Regions from separate parts of the Homo sapiens genome. Here region 2 is linked to region 1. The links come from fine-mapping of genetic effects on gene expression. Tissue or cell type: lung. Region 1 holds a variant in brackets; the other region holds the start of a gene. All regions are shown on one strand. Distances are from middle to middle.

The links. PIP is the estimated chance that this variant, and not a neighbour inherited with it, causes the effect.
Region 2: PRPS2 starts here. The variant in region 1 is fine-mapped to the expression of PRPS2 in lung (TOPMed, PIP 0.99).

Annotation. Positions count from the first base shown.
Region 1 is chrX:12,821,876-12,830,061 of GRCh38, forward strand. PRPS2 (phosphoribosyl pyrophosphate synthetase 2) reads left to right here. Exons shown (of 7, transcript NM_002765.5): 7 at 829-2,347. The coding sequence ends at 921. It also overlaps the pseudogene PSMA6P2. Among named protein-coding and RNA genes, the nearest start is that of PRPS2, 35 kb to the left of the region's middle. The variant C/T (reference allele first, on the strand shown) is at 3,274.
Region 2 is chrX:12,787,389-12,795,574 of GRCh38, forward strand. It overlaps PRPS2 (phosphoribosyl pyrophosphate synthetase 2), which reads left to right and starts at 4,024. Exons shown (of 7, transcript NM_002765.5): 1 at 4,024-4,231. The coding sequence starts at 4,110. RefSeq lists a silencer at 4,280-4,729.

The DNA.
Region 1 (8,186 bases):
CATTTTGCCTCTATGTCGCTGTGAACCTTGGCAAGTCATTTCATTGCTCCAAAGCCTCGGCTCCCATCAGCGTAGCATGAAGGTGCATCACAGTGATCTGCTTCATGATTTCTGATTCCTCAGAGAGAAAAGCAATTTGCTTGACACAAAGCAGTAAGTCTGGAAATGGTCAGGATAGCGATGTCATATATTTTCATGCCTGATTAGCAGTAGTTTAGGATGGGAGTTGGCACACTATGGCTCGCAAGTGAAATCCAGCCTGTCATCTGTTTCTGCAAATTTTTATCAGAGCACAGCCACGTCCATTCATATATGTATTGCCCGTGGCTGCTTTCACGCTACAATGGGCAAGTTGAGTATTTGTGACAGAGACCCTCTGGCTTCCAAGGTCAAATATGTTAACTATTTGGTCCTCTATAGTTTGCTGACCCCTGAGTTAGATGATCACAGTTGTGCTCTTAAATGACGCAGTCACCGCCTTTTCAGAAACAGAAAGAAAAACCTTCCGTATAATGATTAAACTTAATTTAAAACAACAAATGCCCCTGGAAAAGGATGTCTCTGGTTAACAGTATCCCTGAAAAGCCTTCTGTCTCTGCATTGAAAATCTCCCTTCCAGGATCCCATATGGGTCTGGTTCAACGGGTTGTAATTTGAAGACATACCCCAAAGCTGTCTGTCCTCTCAAAAGTGTCGGAAGTTTTGATAGCAACACATCATGTATGCTGCAGAAATTGTTTCTCAGCTTTCCAGCTTTTCAATGTTTAAAGAACTCTAACTAAGATGTCCTGCTTCCCTTCTCCCTTTGTTTTTCTCATTGGCATTTAGGTCATTGACATTTCCATGATCTTGGCCGAAGCAATCCGAAGGACACACAATGGGGAATCCGTGTCCTACCTGTTCAGCCATGTCCCGCTATAAATCCAGAATGGGAAGTGTCCAGCAAGCCTACTCTGACTTCTGACTTGTTTTTGTTTTCTGGATTTTTAGCTGTAGGTATTCAGCAATGATAGGTTAATCACTGGCAAAAGCATCAGATCTTTGTATATGCTAAGATTTATTGTTTCCCCTTCTAAAGCTCAAGATCATTTCTTTCCAGTTTTTGGGGAAATGGTGGTGGTTATTTGGTCTTTAAGTGAACTGTCTTAAATGAGAAACGTTTTTGTCATTTTGACTTTTAACAGGTACAGGTGATCTCTTCCTTTGTTCTTTCAGTACTTTGAGGCGACAACTTTCAAGTATATAATTTCATTGTGGAAGTCATAGTTTATATATTTCGAGGTTGCCAAAGGTGACTTCAGATTAAAGCCTTCTGTGTAAATATATACTGATAATGCCTATGGACATTTGGGTAAAACCCTGTATAGAATTAATTATCCTTTTACTTTGGAGTGAACCTTGGAAAATTTATAATTATAATACCATGGATTTTGAATTTTCCTTTTTTTTTTTTTTTTGGATAACTCAGTTTCAGATAAACCATCTTGGTTACTGTGCTTAATTTGGACCAAATTTTATTTAGCTTAATATGGACACTGACACATTTTGGGGGGTATACATTAGACATATCAGAGCAGTGTATTTCTGGATCATTTTTTAAATGACCTCTTCTAAAACATAACTGTCACTTACCTGAAATGCTGCATCCTAAAATTCCAAAATTATATTGAGCAATCGCCAAGGCCTAAAGCCAACTGACTTAAAGGTAATCATTTCAGCTAAGATTAAATTTAAAGCCTAAGAATGTATAGAGCTAGTTTTAAAATAATGATCTCAGATTTTTAAAAAGGATATAGGAACCTGCATTGTCATTCTCTGAATTAAGAACTGATGGTTTCTATCATTATTTAGCCCCACCTTTGTATTTTAAAATCCTTCAGAATACATTTATGAACCAATGCGACTGGACTTAGCCACACACAATGGAAATTCAGACCTTGACTATTTGGTGTTTCCAGTTCACAAAGGTGATGAAGACTGTCTTGGGAGCAGCTTAATCCCAAAATTTGTACATTTCTTGCTGCTCCTGGCGTGGAAACTTAAGTGAGACCACCAAATACATTGGTCCTGTCCAATTCTACTGAATGGGGGTGGACCTGGCATTTATCTGGCCAAAAACAGGAGCCAGAGAAATATGAATATACCAAAGTTGTTTGTTTAGCCTCCAACTTAAATTACATTAGTCAACTTATAGATACTCATATGATCACTTTTCTTTTTAGATACTACATCAACTAGATTCAGGAGTATATCATTTGCAGTGCTTGTATTGGTTTAAAATGTAAGATTTTAAGATCCTCTAACACTGTACTAAAACATTTCAATAAAATCATTCTGACTGCGTTCATAGTTTGTATGTATCATTGTGGAGTAATATGTTTTGACGGAGTGATGTGTTGCAGTACCTGAAAATGTTTGCTACTTTACGATTATAGGCCAGCATACAAAATTACAGAAAAGCCAGAAGTTAATTGATGTCAGCTGTTTTCCATTTTGAAGGTGTTTCTTCCTGAAGAACTTACCAGCAATCGCCTTTCCTCAAAGCGTAACAGCTGTGCCACATAAGGTGTCCACGTTGTTAATTCCACATGTTTCCTATAAAATTAAAGATGGTACAGTGTGTTCACGCATCAGAGTAGTGATGTTCAATATCCATCTATTGGAGCAAACCAAACTTAAATGTAGGCTGCATAAAACTTGTTCATATTCATTGATTTCAGAAGCACCGAGGAGGATTCCTGTCCCCATAGAACAGCCTGTTCAGTGATACTTCAAACTACTCTCGTGAGCGCAAAGTCAAGTCATAATTACGTTCCCCTGGTGAAGCTCAGCTGTAAAGTATGTGTAACACTAAGAATGGCAACATGGTGTCTTGAAGTCACAGTGAAATATGAAGAATTACATCCAGGTCCATCTGAGAAAAAAGGTGATCACAGTGTGAGAGAACATGATAGAATGTACTAGAAAGGAGGGAAGTGAAGGAGAAGTGAAAGCCAAAGACACTTCATCAGCTTTACAATTGCACTTAATAATGCTGCCACACCTCTTCAGAGACGTTTCATTTCCTATGGCATGTCCTATCTAATCCCCTAGCTGAACTACAGGGGACAGGGAAGTAGTGAAGGGAAAGATGGAGTACTAAGGCGTGCAGAGGTTGGAATCACGCTGGGGATACCAGGAAGGGCTCGGTGATCACCATTAGACGGTTCACGTCGGAATTTTCCAGAACCCTATGGTGTGTTCCAGTGTGGACTGACGCAGGACAGCAGAGGG[C/T]GTTTGGTACATGATGTGTTTGAGCAAGGATGTGCCAGGGAAGATGGGAGTTAGGGGCTGAAACATACTCAGCTATCCTGTATCTAAATTGCGTGAAATCAACAGGGCTCCTCCTTCTCATTACCAATATTTATCTTCCTGATTTATCTCCCTGTGCCCCAGGAACACATCCCTCCACCTTTTTTCTGCCCCTGCTTTCCAAGATCACATCCTGGGTGGTTTCCTTTATTGCAGTCTTTGAGCTCTGTTTCCTATTCTGAAAGCATAATGCCCAGGAACACAGACTTCACCACTTACCGGAGTTTAAAAACCAACAGCAACAACGACCTTGGGCTGGTTGCTTAACCCCTATGCCTCAGTTTCCTTACATGTGAGATGGGGATAATAAATGAGACGTTATGTGTAAAGTGTTTAGAATTGCTTGGTTTGTACATTAACTTCAGTTTTTAGAGTGAGCCTCCTGAAACTCCCCTAGAAAGAATGTAAGGTATGAAGAGGCAAGATTTTCATGCATTTTCTAGGTGTTCATCCTAGAGGGGAACAGACTGCCCTCCTGCCATTTTAGAAGGGCTACATTGTCTTGGCATGTGACTGCCTCAGTGAAGGGTAGCATTTAGGTGACAAATAGTTGCATGTTAAAAAAAAAAAAAAAAAAAAAACTTGATTATGCTGAAAGTAGTGGTTCTACCAGCATGTCCCGTGGTTCCAGCGCTGGTTTTGCCCACCACATTAACATTTTTTTCGCCCGAGGGCCAGCACTACCAAGTAGAATATGCATATGCTTTTAAGGCTATTAACCTGGGTGGCCTTCCATCAGTATTTGTCAGAGGAAAAGACTGCTGTAATTATCATACAGAAGAAATGCTTGACAAATTATCGGATTCCAGCACAGTGACTCACTTACTCAAAATAACTGAAAACATTGGCTGTCACTGTGATGACCGGAATGACAGAGGTACAGAGGGCACGCTATGGGGCAGCTAACTGGAAATACAAGTACGGCTATGAGATTCCTGTGGACATTCTGTGTGGAATTGCTGATACTACTCAGAATGCTACAATGAGGTCTCTTGGTTGTATGATTTTCATTGGTATAGATGAAGAACAAGGCCCTCAGGTGTGAAAGTATGATCCTGCAGGTTACTGCTGTGATTTAAAGCCACTGCAGCAGGAGTTAAACAAACTGAGTTAACCAGCTTCCTTGAAAAAAAAAAGTGGGCCGGGTGCGGTGGCTCACGCCTGTAATCCCAGCACTTTGGGAGGCCGAGGCGGGTGGATCACCAGGTCAGGAGATCGAGACCATCCTGGCTAACACGGTGAAACCCAGTCTCTACTAAAAGTACAAAAAATTAGCCGGGCGAGGTGGCGGGCGCCTGTAGTCCCAACTACTCTGGAGGCTGAGGCAGGAGAATGGCGTGAGCCCGGGGGGCGGAGCCTGCAGTGAGCCGAGATCGCGCCACTGCACTCCAGCCTGGGCGACAGAGCGAGACTCCGTCTCAGAAAAAAAAAAAAAAAAAAAAGTGCAAAAGAAATTTGATTGGACATTTGAACAGACAGTGGAAACTGCAATTACATGCCTGTCTACTGTTCTATCAATTGATTTCAAACCTTCAGAAATAGAAGTTGGAGTAGTGACAGTTGAAAATCCTAAAGTCGGGATTCTTACAGAAGCAGAGATTGATGCACTCACATTGTTGTTAGTTTACCAAATCCATGATGCCACTTACCTGTGTGTTTGGTAACAAAAAAAACAACATTATGGAGGTCCCTGGATTGAAAAAGGAGCCTCTCCCACTCCTCCTACTACTGAATTGATTAGGACTCTATAAATAAAAGCAATGCTTTTGGTATCTCAGCATTTTAGGAGGCCAAGGCAGGTGCATCACCTGAGATCAGGAGTTTGAGACCAGCCTGGCCAACATAGTGAAACCCCATCTCTACTAAAAAATACAAAAATTAGTCAGGCATGGTGGCGCATGCCTGTAATCCCAGCCACTTGGAGGCTGAGGCATGAGAATCACTTGAACCTGGGAGGCAGAGGTTGCAGTGAGCCATGATCACACCACTGCACTCCAGCCTGGGCAACAGAGCAAGACTGTCTCAAACAACAACAACAGCAACAACTTTCAGCTGAGTGCCGTGGTGCATTCTTGTAATCCCAGCTACACAGAAGGCTGAGGCAGTAGGATTGCTTGAGCCCAGGAATTTGAGACTGGCCTGGGCAACATAGAGAAACCCCGTCTCTTAAAAACAACAACAATACTTCCAGTGGGCTGTAGAAACAACAGGTAGGAATGAATGTCATGTGATTATAGAGATGGTAATCAATTGAGGTCATTTACAACAACCTGATTTCATTGTAGCCCTCATTCACCATCCATCCCATCATAAATACAACCAAAAGTGGTGCCCAATATAAATGGGAAGAACAGTCTTCACTATCCTAACAGCCGAGTTCTGTGGCCAAAAGAAAACCTGGCTGAATGAATTTTACATTTTAAGAGAGTGATAAAAAAAGAGAATAGGAAAGTGAAAAACATAATGCAGTGGAAAATGCCCTAAATTGGAAGTGTGGCGATCTAGATTCTGGTTCCTGATATGCTGCTAGCAAGCTGGGTGACCTTGGGAAAAATGTGTACACCACTCTGGGTATGAGCATCTTTCTGCAAAAATTAGAGGAAAGATGATTGCAGAAGTCCCCAGCAGTTTTAATAGGCAATGCCATTTATGCTAGATGTAGTTGGAATAGTTCTAACTGAAGGCACAGATGGTTGCTCTCAATAGGGTGACCAACTTGTCTTGGTTTGCGTGGGACTTTTCTCGATTTAGCCCTGAAAGACCTATATCTTAGGAAACCCCTCAGTCCTGGGCAAACCAGGACGTTTGGTCTCCCGTTCCCTCTTCTAAGGTGGATAGTTCTGCATCCCCGGCACTACCTTGGTAAGGAATCCCACGAGCATGGCTTTGATCTTGTGCTGGTTGCAAAAACAAGCAGGCTATATGATGAGCCCAACAATGTGCAGGGCACCTGTGGTATCACAGGTCTTTTAAAATCTGTTCAACTAACTATAGAAGCTCAAGAGCTGTAGTCACAAAATCAGAGAGAAAAAGCAGGGGCACCTTTAGAAAACACCTTCAAGCCTGGCTTGATTGCCAGTCCTTTGGCACAGCTACCTTTAACACCATAAGTGGTCTTCAGAGACCCCAGGGAACAGTCCAGGCAGAAGGCAGAGTGCTCTGAAGGTTACCTGATGTACGTTGTCCTTCCGCACATTGAGAGATTCTTAACATTTGTGAGGGCATGGCCATCTGTGTCTGAGGACGTATGATGCTCTGATTTTCCCTACACAAGGAGTGCTAAATCTAGTATTTTCTTGCATGGAAGCTAAGACTGACCATGAATTATGGACATATTTTAAGAACTAAAACTGAACACGTCACTCTTTAAAATCATCCTAATGATTATTTCTGGGCATATTTTGATGTACATTTACCATAGGATAAGCTCAGTATGTGCCATTGACATTTACTCACCCAAGGAACCAAGGAGCGACCCTAAATTTCTTTTCTTTTTCTTCCTTTCCTTCCTTCCTTCCTTCCTTCCTTCCTTCCTTCCTTCCTCTCTCTCTCTCTTTCTTTGTCTCTCTCTTTCCTGTTTTTTTTGAGACAGAAGGTCTCACTATATTGCTCAGGCTGGTCTTGAACTCATAGTATCAAGCAATCCTCCTGCCTCAGCCTCCAAGTAGCTGGAACTACAGGTGTGCACCACCATGCCTGGTGCAACCCTAAATTCCTTTAAGTCTCAGAAAACCTTGTATTTAGGACCAAGGCTATGGAACAGAAGAATCAAAAGAAAGATAGGCAGAGATCCCTCTCCACAGCAATGGTGATCTGACCTCGCATTAATTTCTGCACCTGGATGCATTCATAGCATTCAAAGAGCAATTCTTTCTTGAACACCGACCAAGACTCATTCCTTGTCCTAACAACAGTCAGGCTCCTCTGAATCCTCTCCTTGACCAGACCTGTCTTGGGCTTCCCTCTCTGTCATTGTGGAATTTAGTTTGAGCAAGAATCCTGTGAAGTCAGTTTATCAAAAAAACTCCTGCCCTTGGTATCTGACCACCCTCGATATCTTATCACCCAGGCTTGCCTTTAGCAAGAATTCTATTTGAGTTGATCTAGCAAGAATCCCTCCTACCCCTGATGTTTCCTTAGTGGTTTTCCATCCACGGCCCCCAACCCTGCTCGTTGCTTACAAATCCCCACTTGTCCTTGTTGGAGTCAGAGCTGAGATTAATCTCTCTCCCCCACTATAAGACCCCATTGCAGTCTGTGGTCCCTAAACCTATCACAAAGACCCCCTTGAATGAAGTCTTCCTTAGTGTCTTCAATGAATGTGATGAATAACTTTTTTTTTTAACAATACAAAATTCACAGAAAAAGTCCTATGAATTAAAAAGCACTCTGGGGAAAACCAGTTGGCGCGAGAGTTATTTTGGAAGAATCAATAATCCTCCACTGATGTGCATTGGTACAGCCATAAACACACTTTCAACCCTTGCGTTTTGGAGAGGTTTTATTACATGTACATAAATTAGGAACTTTAATACATCGGAGAAATACCACTTGCTTCTCTGTATTTTGACTCATGTGAACATCTTGGCTTAGACATATGTCAAACGGAAAATTCATATTTTTAGTCCTTCCACAGGCAAAATGAAGGAGTTGGTCTTGTTTCATTCATTCATTCATTCATTCATTCATTCATACACTCAGCAATCCCTTATGAAGCACCTATTAGTATACCATAGTGTTAGGATGCGGCTGTCATATAAGTATGAGATAAATAAAATACATGAATAAGGCTTATGTAAATCTAGCCTTCAGAGTTGACACAGGTCGTTTTTTGT
Region 2 (8,186 bases), 34 kb before region 1:
CATACGGTGTGATGTCTTTATCTTTTTACAGATATATGCAGGCTAAATAATTTAGAGGTGAATATATAACATCTGTAATTTACTTTAAAATACTTTAGATAAAAACAGATAAAGCAAACATGGGAAAATTTTGACAGCTACAAAATCTAGGTGGTGGGTATATCGGTGTTCACTCTATTTTCATCTCGGTTTTTGGATTTTTCTTTAAACAACAGAAGTAAAAGGTAAAGTTCTAGAAATAAAAATCAGAAAAATTACTTGATTCTGAGTGAAAATGTTATTAATAGAGAATTAAAGTTGAATCTATTTTAACTTATTTTTAAAGTACATTGCTTATAAATGTTAGCATTTCATAATAAGTTATAAATTATTTGCCACACCCCTAATAAAAACATACAAGAAAAAGGTTATGTCAGAGTGTCTTGGCATTGCTCTTAGGAACTAGTGTTCTAGAACTTCTTGTTCTAATACAGCAACTATCAGCCACATGTGGCTGATGAGCACTTCAGATATGGCAAGTCCAAATTAAGATGTGCTGTAAGCGTAAAATCTATATTGGATTTTGAAGGCTTGACACAAAAAGATGCAAAGTAGCTCATTAATATGTTTTATGTTGATTACATGTTGGAATGATAATATTTTGGATATTGGATTAAAGTGTATTATTAAAATTACCTTCACTTGTTTTTTATATTCTTTTAAAATACAGCTACTAAAGTGTAAATTACATATGTGGCTTGCATTATATTTCTTTTTAAAAAGTTTAAAATTTTTTCATAGAAACATATAGGAAACAATCATTACATTTCTTTTGGATGGTACCATTCTAGAGAGAAAAGGACTGGACTAGAAGATCCACATTCTAATTCCTTTGCTGCTTTCAACTAGCCATGTGACTTGGGGAAATTTCTTCCGTTTCTCAGCCCTAAAATAGTCAGGGATAAATTCACTCAGCAAATACTTAGACTTCTTACTATATACAAAGAACTTGGCTAGATGATGTGGGAAATAGAAGACGTGAAACTGTTCATAAATTCAAATCATTGTTTTACCGTTAATCTCTATCCATGAGTCAATGAAGATAGAAATCAACAATAGAAAATATCTCATCATTTTAATTTTTTCCACTAACATTTTATCTTAAGATAATGTATATTTTATAAACGGTCTGAGACCCAGATCACATATGCACAGAGTATATGTTCTTTTTCTCTTCTAAGTCTTGGGTCTTTGAACAAGTGTTCCATTTTTCCAGAGGCTCCCCAACTTCAAATGTTGTTCAAGAAGTGCACTGTGGTAGACAGTTGGTGGACAGTACTCATGCCCTCCAGTTGTCCCATACCATGTTGACAGCTGGTCTTGGCCATGTAACTTGCTTTGGTCAATGAGACATTAGCAAGCAAGTTAAAAACAGAGGTTTGATAAGCACTTGCTCATTGAGACTTATCTTCTTGGAACACTCCTTGGAACCTTGCAGCCATGCCGTAAGGAAGCCCAAACAACCATGAAGAAAGGCCCACATGGAGGAGAGAAGGGCCAGGGGTTCTTTCAAACTAGTGATTCTCAACCTGTGGTGATTTTGCTCCTTGTAGGACATTTGGCAATGTCTGGGGACACTTTTGGTTGTCACAGTGGTGGATAGGTGCTACTGGCATCTAGTGGGTAGAGGCAAGGGAGGCTGCTAAACAATCTGCAATGCACAGGACAGTCCCACAACAAAGAATTACCCAGCCTAAATATCAGCTGTGCTGAGGTTCAGAAACCTGCTCTAGACCAATGTTTCCCACAACCTGGCTCCTATGGATCAAGGATAAAGGCATTTGGGAGAGAAAGTTTTCACACTTAAATAAAATTATCTGTAGCTGCTCATTTACAAGTGACAGCTTTCTGAACAGTCTGTGACTCATGATGATTTTTCAATGATTCCCATTAGTATTCTCATCAACCCCAATGGCACATTTCACCTTGTTTACATTTAGCATTTAAGCAGAGTAACTCATCAAACTATTGAACCAACAATCATTGTATTAGTTGCCCCAACTGAGATATTGTTTCTCCTTGGTGCTATCAAGTCCATGGTTTGTCACAATTCAATCCGAGCTTCCAAATCTGCAGCCATTTACCCACCCAAAGACCAGGGGCTTTAACTTTTACTGTTTTATAGTCCATCAGCTTTGGTTCTGTGTTACCAAAGAACCACAGCCCCATCATGCTAAGAGGATGCCACTTTCCCTTTGAGAAGAGCATCTATATATTTAGAAGAAACCATTATTAGTCAATTTTATCTATGAGAGAAATATTAAGAATATAAAAATTATAGTAATTTGCTGATAGTAAATTTTATTAGAAGAGTTTAAATATAACTACATTAGCAGACTCAATAAAAATTTTAAACATAGTGGGTCAAGTATAAATCTCATTGCTATGGTAATTAGCTGTGAAATACATAGATAATAAACCATTGCAGATAGGGGTTTTTGTTTGTTTTCTCACATAATAGGGCACATATGCATCTCTAGGCGGAATGAAAAAGGGCCAGAAATGCTGCTAAAATTGTCAGTTTGAATAACTTTTTGATAGGCTGGCAGATACAAAAGTTTACAAGAAACACTCGATGTGCCAAGTAATCTCCTTGCAAAGTACAAGGACCCAGATGAAAAATCCCAATGATGCGAATCATCCCTGTAATCTCCCAAATCCCATTATGAAGTCTGATTAGAGTAGGCTACAACCCAATTGCAAGTGGGCTTTGCTGTTGATGGAGAGCCAATTCGTGGCAAACATTAGTAAAACCAAGCCATTTATCTACCCGGTTGAATCAGCCTTTGTTGAGGAGTGTGAAACTGTGACCAGCATCACCAACCAGCCCTCTATAGACAGGGACTGCTTTCCTTTCTCCTACACTTGGTTTGTGCCCTGAAGTTGGCTCTGGTACTGCATTGGCATCTTGAGAAAACCTTTTTGCTGGTTTCTAGCAGGAAAGAGAGGAAGGAGGCCCTGACTCCAGGGATGTGGAGGGACTGAGCTGGATTGTCTAGGGAGATCTGTGTTCCTGGGATCAGGCCCTTGAGCACCCAACAGGCAGAAGGTTGTGAAGTGCCCCAAGGACCATCACATCTACCGAAAAATGGTGAATCTGGGGGACTTGGTTTGATCCAGTGAGCCACCAAGAGCAATACTTCCCCTCAGCCTGTGATGAGGACTCACATAGTGGTTGGATTTTTTAAGGACACATGGTGCAGGGGCAACTCTGTAGTTCAGGGGTCATCAAGTTTGAACTATGAGGGACCACATGGCCAATATTTACATTTTGCAGACCAAGCAAGAAAAGGGAAGATATTACGTAGGAACTTACATAACAAGAGAGAAAAAATTGTCACAATGTTTTTATTGATATAATCCAAAATACGGTAATATTTGAGTACAATTATTTGCAACTCACATCTATTAATGAGAGAAAAGGAATTCTTTTGCGGGGGGGATATTTCTCTTAATTGGAGTTCAAAGGCGGTGTCTGCTATCATCACATAAAGTGCAAATGTTCATGTATGAAAACCATGCTTAGCTCTCTGGTACAAACACAGGGAGCTCTCGCGATCTGGCCCATAGGCTGTAGTTTGCAGACCCTTGCTATAGCTGAACACCAGTCGCCCACACTGGGTTTGCGGTGTTCCGGGGTGGGAAGTCGCTCCGGGCTGCGAAGCACCTCGAGGGATCCCCCCGGCCCGAACTCTCCCTCTGTGCCCAGCTAACCGCGGTTCATTGGCTCTCCCCGCGAGGCAGGTCTGGAAGATCAAGAATGAAGCTCGGAGCTCTCTCGCGGAGCAAGGACACCTTCGGGCTTCAGGACCACCCAGGGCGTCCAAAACTGCTGCCAGGGCTGTGCCCCCGCCCCCCGGCACTTTCCAGCTCCCCCTCCACGCCCGCTCTTCCTCCCTCTCTGCCCCCTCTAGCTCCTCCTCCGGCTCCTCCCCCTCCGCTCCTCCCCTTCCCTACATCTAGCCGCCGCGCTTTCCCGCTCCCGCAGCAGCAGCCTCCCGCGTCGCTGTCGCTGTTGCCTCCGCCACCTCCTCCGCCGCCGCGCGCCCCTCGGAGTTCCGCGCCCCACCATGCCCAACATCGTGCTGTTCAGCGGCAGCTCGCATCAGGACCTGTCCCAGCGCGTGGCCGACCGCCTGGGCCTGGAGCTGGGCAAGGTGGTCACGAAGAAGTTCAGCAACCAGGAGACCAGGTGGGGGCCGCGCCGGCGGCCGGGCTAGGGAGAGCGCTGGGCACGCGGCTGCGGGGCCGGGTTGGGGGCCGGCGCCTGCCCGGGCCACCTCCGCGGACGCCGCGCTCCCCCTTCCGGGGCGGGACGGTGGCAACGCGGCCTCCGCGCCCCCGCGCCCGCGCCTGCGAAGAAACCGAGGCGGGGCGCCGCGCGTCCCGATGCGCGCCTCGGCTGTGCCCCCGGTTGCAGGGCCTCCGGTCCTGGGACCGCGGCGACCCGGCGGTCCCGAGCCGCTCCCGGCCTCCCAGCGGTGCCGCCCGGCCTGGCGTCCCCAGCCCGGAAGGGAGACGTCTGGGCGGTCACAGACCGTCGGGGAGAGAGTGGGCGCAGCGGGCGGGAACCGCATCGGGTCAGCGCGCGGTGGAGAGACGTCCTGGGTTGGCTGGTCCCAGTTTCCGCGTCCCTACAAAGCTGAACCTCAGACCAGTGCGTGCGACTAAAGGTTTCCCCCCGTCCCCAACTCTGGTTGCACGCTGGGTTTACCTGGGGACGGTCCGAACGCTGCTTCCCCCGACCTGCCCCCAAGGGTTTGATCCAACGGGCGGAGGATCAGCGATTTTACAAGCTTCCCTGGCTTCTCCTGAGCAGCCAGGGCGCAGACCACTGCGTTATCCAGAGGGTGCAGTTGTGCCAAGGTTTGAAAGACTGTGAGAACCCCAGGACGCACGTGCTGGGCTCCCCTCTGCTCCCACTACTCTTGCTGCTTTAAAGATGATGGACTTTCAGCTTCCTTCTTGTTCTAGGACTCTGCTGTGTCCAGCAACAACGCCGTGATTCGACTGTAACTTTCACCCATTTCTCAAGTCCAGGAGAGCCTCAGGTGGTGGCCATCCTCGGAAGCTGACCTGGGGGGCTCCTTTGTCTATCTGCCTGAGTCCACACAGCTCCTTGACTCATTTCAAATTGGTCTCATTTTTCCCCCTTCTTCCTCCAATGTCTAGTACCGTTAACTGTCCACAGTTACTGATAATTTTTATATCTTTGGCAAAGGTTCAATTTTACCAACATTTTCTAGAAATGGTGTTGGAACAGTTGGACACCCATATGCCAAAAAATATGAACTTCCATCCATACTTTTCACCATTTGTAAAAATTAACTTTGAAGTGGATCATAGACCTAATTGTAAAATCTAGAACTATAAAATTTCTAGCAGAAAATCTTGACTTGGGGTTAGGCAAAAATTTCTTAAGGAGGAGTTATGTTAATACTGATGGGGAAGATGCTATATTTTGGCAAGTCAGCTTTTTAGGATATGTGAATCTTACGTGACTTCTTCCAGGTGGCAAATTCCAGTTATGGCTCCGATGATAATATAAGCGAAGAAACATTGTGAATGAGTGGCAGGTGGACTTTGGCTAAAGAATTCCACTCTGCAGTGTTTAATGCAGAAGTCTGAGAGGATGGTCTAGGGCTCTGGAGAAGGATAGAGCTAGGTTTGAGTGTTGCAGTATTTTGCCAGTCTTGTTCAAGTTTCAGTCGCTGTAAGAACACGAGAAGAAGAATAGTTTTTGTTCAGAAGGTGTCGTCATATAAGTAAAGGAGAAATTTGTTGATGAAGTAAATTTTGAAAGCAAATATGTTGCCCTTCCAGGTACTCAGTGCAGCATGATCTTTTGCTAAGGAGCATGGTTAATCTAGATCAGTTCACTGCTAAGTCAGTGTTGAGTTTCTCCTAAAAATACCACATGTGCCACTGGGCAAAACTCACTCAGACACTGAAGTATGATTGTTTATACATTTGGTTCAAATATAAAGCAGACTCACTTTTATTTTGTTTTTGGCATTTTATAACCATCACTTGATAATTAGAAATCGTGGGACCTCAAAAACCACTCAGCATGAAGTTTGGGAATTGCCTATATAGCTACATTTTATGTTTTTAATGTATAGAGTATAAAAGGTTCACTGCCTGACTTTTCTCTTTTCCATGAACTGTACAAGTACAGAGCTTAATTTTTATAAACAGCCCTCTCTGGACCAGTTACTGTGCTAGGAATCCAGCTTTTAGCTGTGTAATCGTAGAGAGGAAAAACTGAAGGGCAAAATGAAGACAAAATTGATTCAGTTCATGTAAGGGCCCCTTCTTGAATCTGTCACTGAACTAGGATCAGAAATCTGGTTTGCTGTCTCCTGGCCATCAATCCTCCCATTTTGCGTTTTTTATATGCTACTTTACTGAACATAGAGCCTTCCAATTTTACCTTCTTATCCCTAAATCATTTCAGATATGCAGGGAGAGGTCCGCTCCAGCTTCACTATAGACCATGGAAATTCCATGATGACATCTTAGGACAGCAGGTGTCTAGATGTCTCTGTTGTAACATTTTACTATGGTCAGTTAACCTGCTGGCAGAATCTTTAGCTATACTGTGAGACAAGGTTATGCAAAGTTATACAAGGTTATCGGTTACCATGTAATAAATAAAGAGCTTAATGGCTTAAAACAGTAATTGTTGATTTGGCTTACAAATCTGCAATTTGGGAAGGGCTCAGTGAAGAAAGCTTGTTTTTGCCGCGTATGGTCACAGCTGAGGCTGGTCACAGCTGAGGCGGCTAACTGGGGCTGGAGGGTTCTTGAAGATGGCTCACATGACTGAAGTTGTTACTAGCTTTTGCCTGGGAGCTTGGTTAGGAACCTCAGCTCCTCTTCTTGTAGGCCTCTCCATGGGGCTGCTTGAGCTTCCTTACAGCATGGAAGCTGGGTTCTAAGAGCACATGTTCCAAAAGACAGGACATTGAAGCCACCAGTCCATTAAGGACTGGGCTTGCAAGTTGGTGTATCATAATTTCTGTCATATGCTGTTGGGCAAGTACAGAGCCCTCTCAGATTCAAGGGCGGGAGACTAGACCCTGCTCCTTGATGGGAAATGTGTTAAGAGTCTGTGGCTATCTTTTAGTTACCATGCCCGTTTATTGTTGAGTCAGTGACGCTCTTCAGCGTTTTTATTTGGGGGTCAATAAAGATCCTCTGGCAGAATGGCAAATGGATGCTGCCTTCTAGCCACAATTTTTTAAAGACCTAGAATAAAGGTAGTCATGATCATCTTTTTGAGTAGAAGCAGGACTAGCTTTAGGGGAAAAGTTGCCATGGTGATGATATTCTCTGTCCTCCCCTGGACTGCTAGTCATATGAGAACTGAGGTTCCTGAGTAAAAACAGGCCAAAGAATCTAATCTTGTGGGATAAACGTCATAAGACCAGGAGTTGGCAAAGTTTTTCTGCAAAGGGCCAAATCGTAAATATTTTAGGCAGTGCTAGCACATGTAGTCTCTGTTGCTGCGGTATCTTACAGTTCTGTAAGTTACGGTAATGTCTGTCACAGGTTAGCAGGGCTGTATTCTCTTCTGAGGCTCTAGGGGAGAATCTGTTCCCGTGCCTTTTCCGGTTTCCAGAGGCAGCCCACATTCCTTCACTATTGGCCTCTTCACCTTCAATGTCAGCAACAAAATGTTGCTCTGACCCTGCTTCTGCTGTCTCCCTCTTGCATTTTTAAGGGCCCCATGATTACAATGGGCCAATTTAAATAATCCAGGATAATTTCCCCATGTTAAGGTCAGCTGATGAGCAACCTGAATGCTATCTGCAAATTTACTTCCCCTTTGCCATATAAACTCACATATTCAAAGGATTAGGATGTAGACATCTTTAGGGGGCCATTATTCTGCCTACCACGCCATTCTTAACTCACAGGCCATAGAAAAACAGCCTATGTGCTGTGTTTTGTCAACCTCTCAGCTATATAATACTGTACTTGATTTCTGCTGTAGTTCATTTTGTGCTGCTATAACAGAATACCAGAGACTGGCTAATTTATAAACAATAGAAATTTGTTTCTCACAGGTCTGGAGGCTGGGAAGTCCAATACTGAGGGGCTGGCATCTGGCAAGGGCTTTCTTGCTGCATCATCCCATGGCA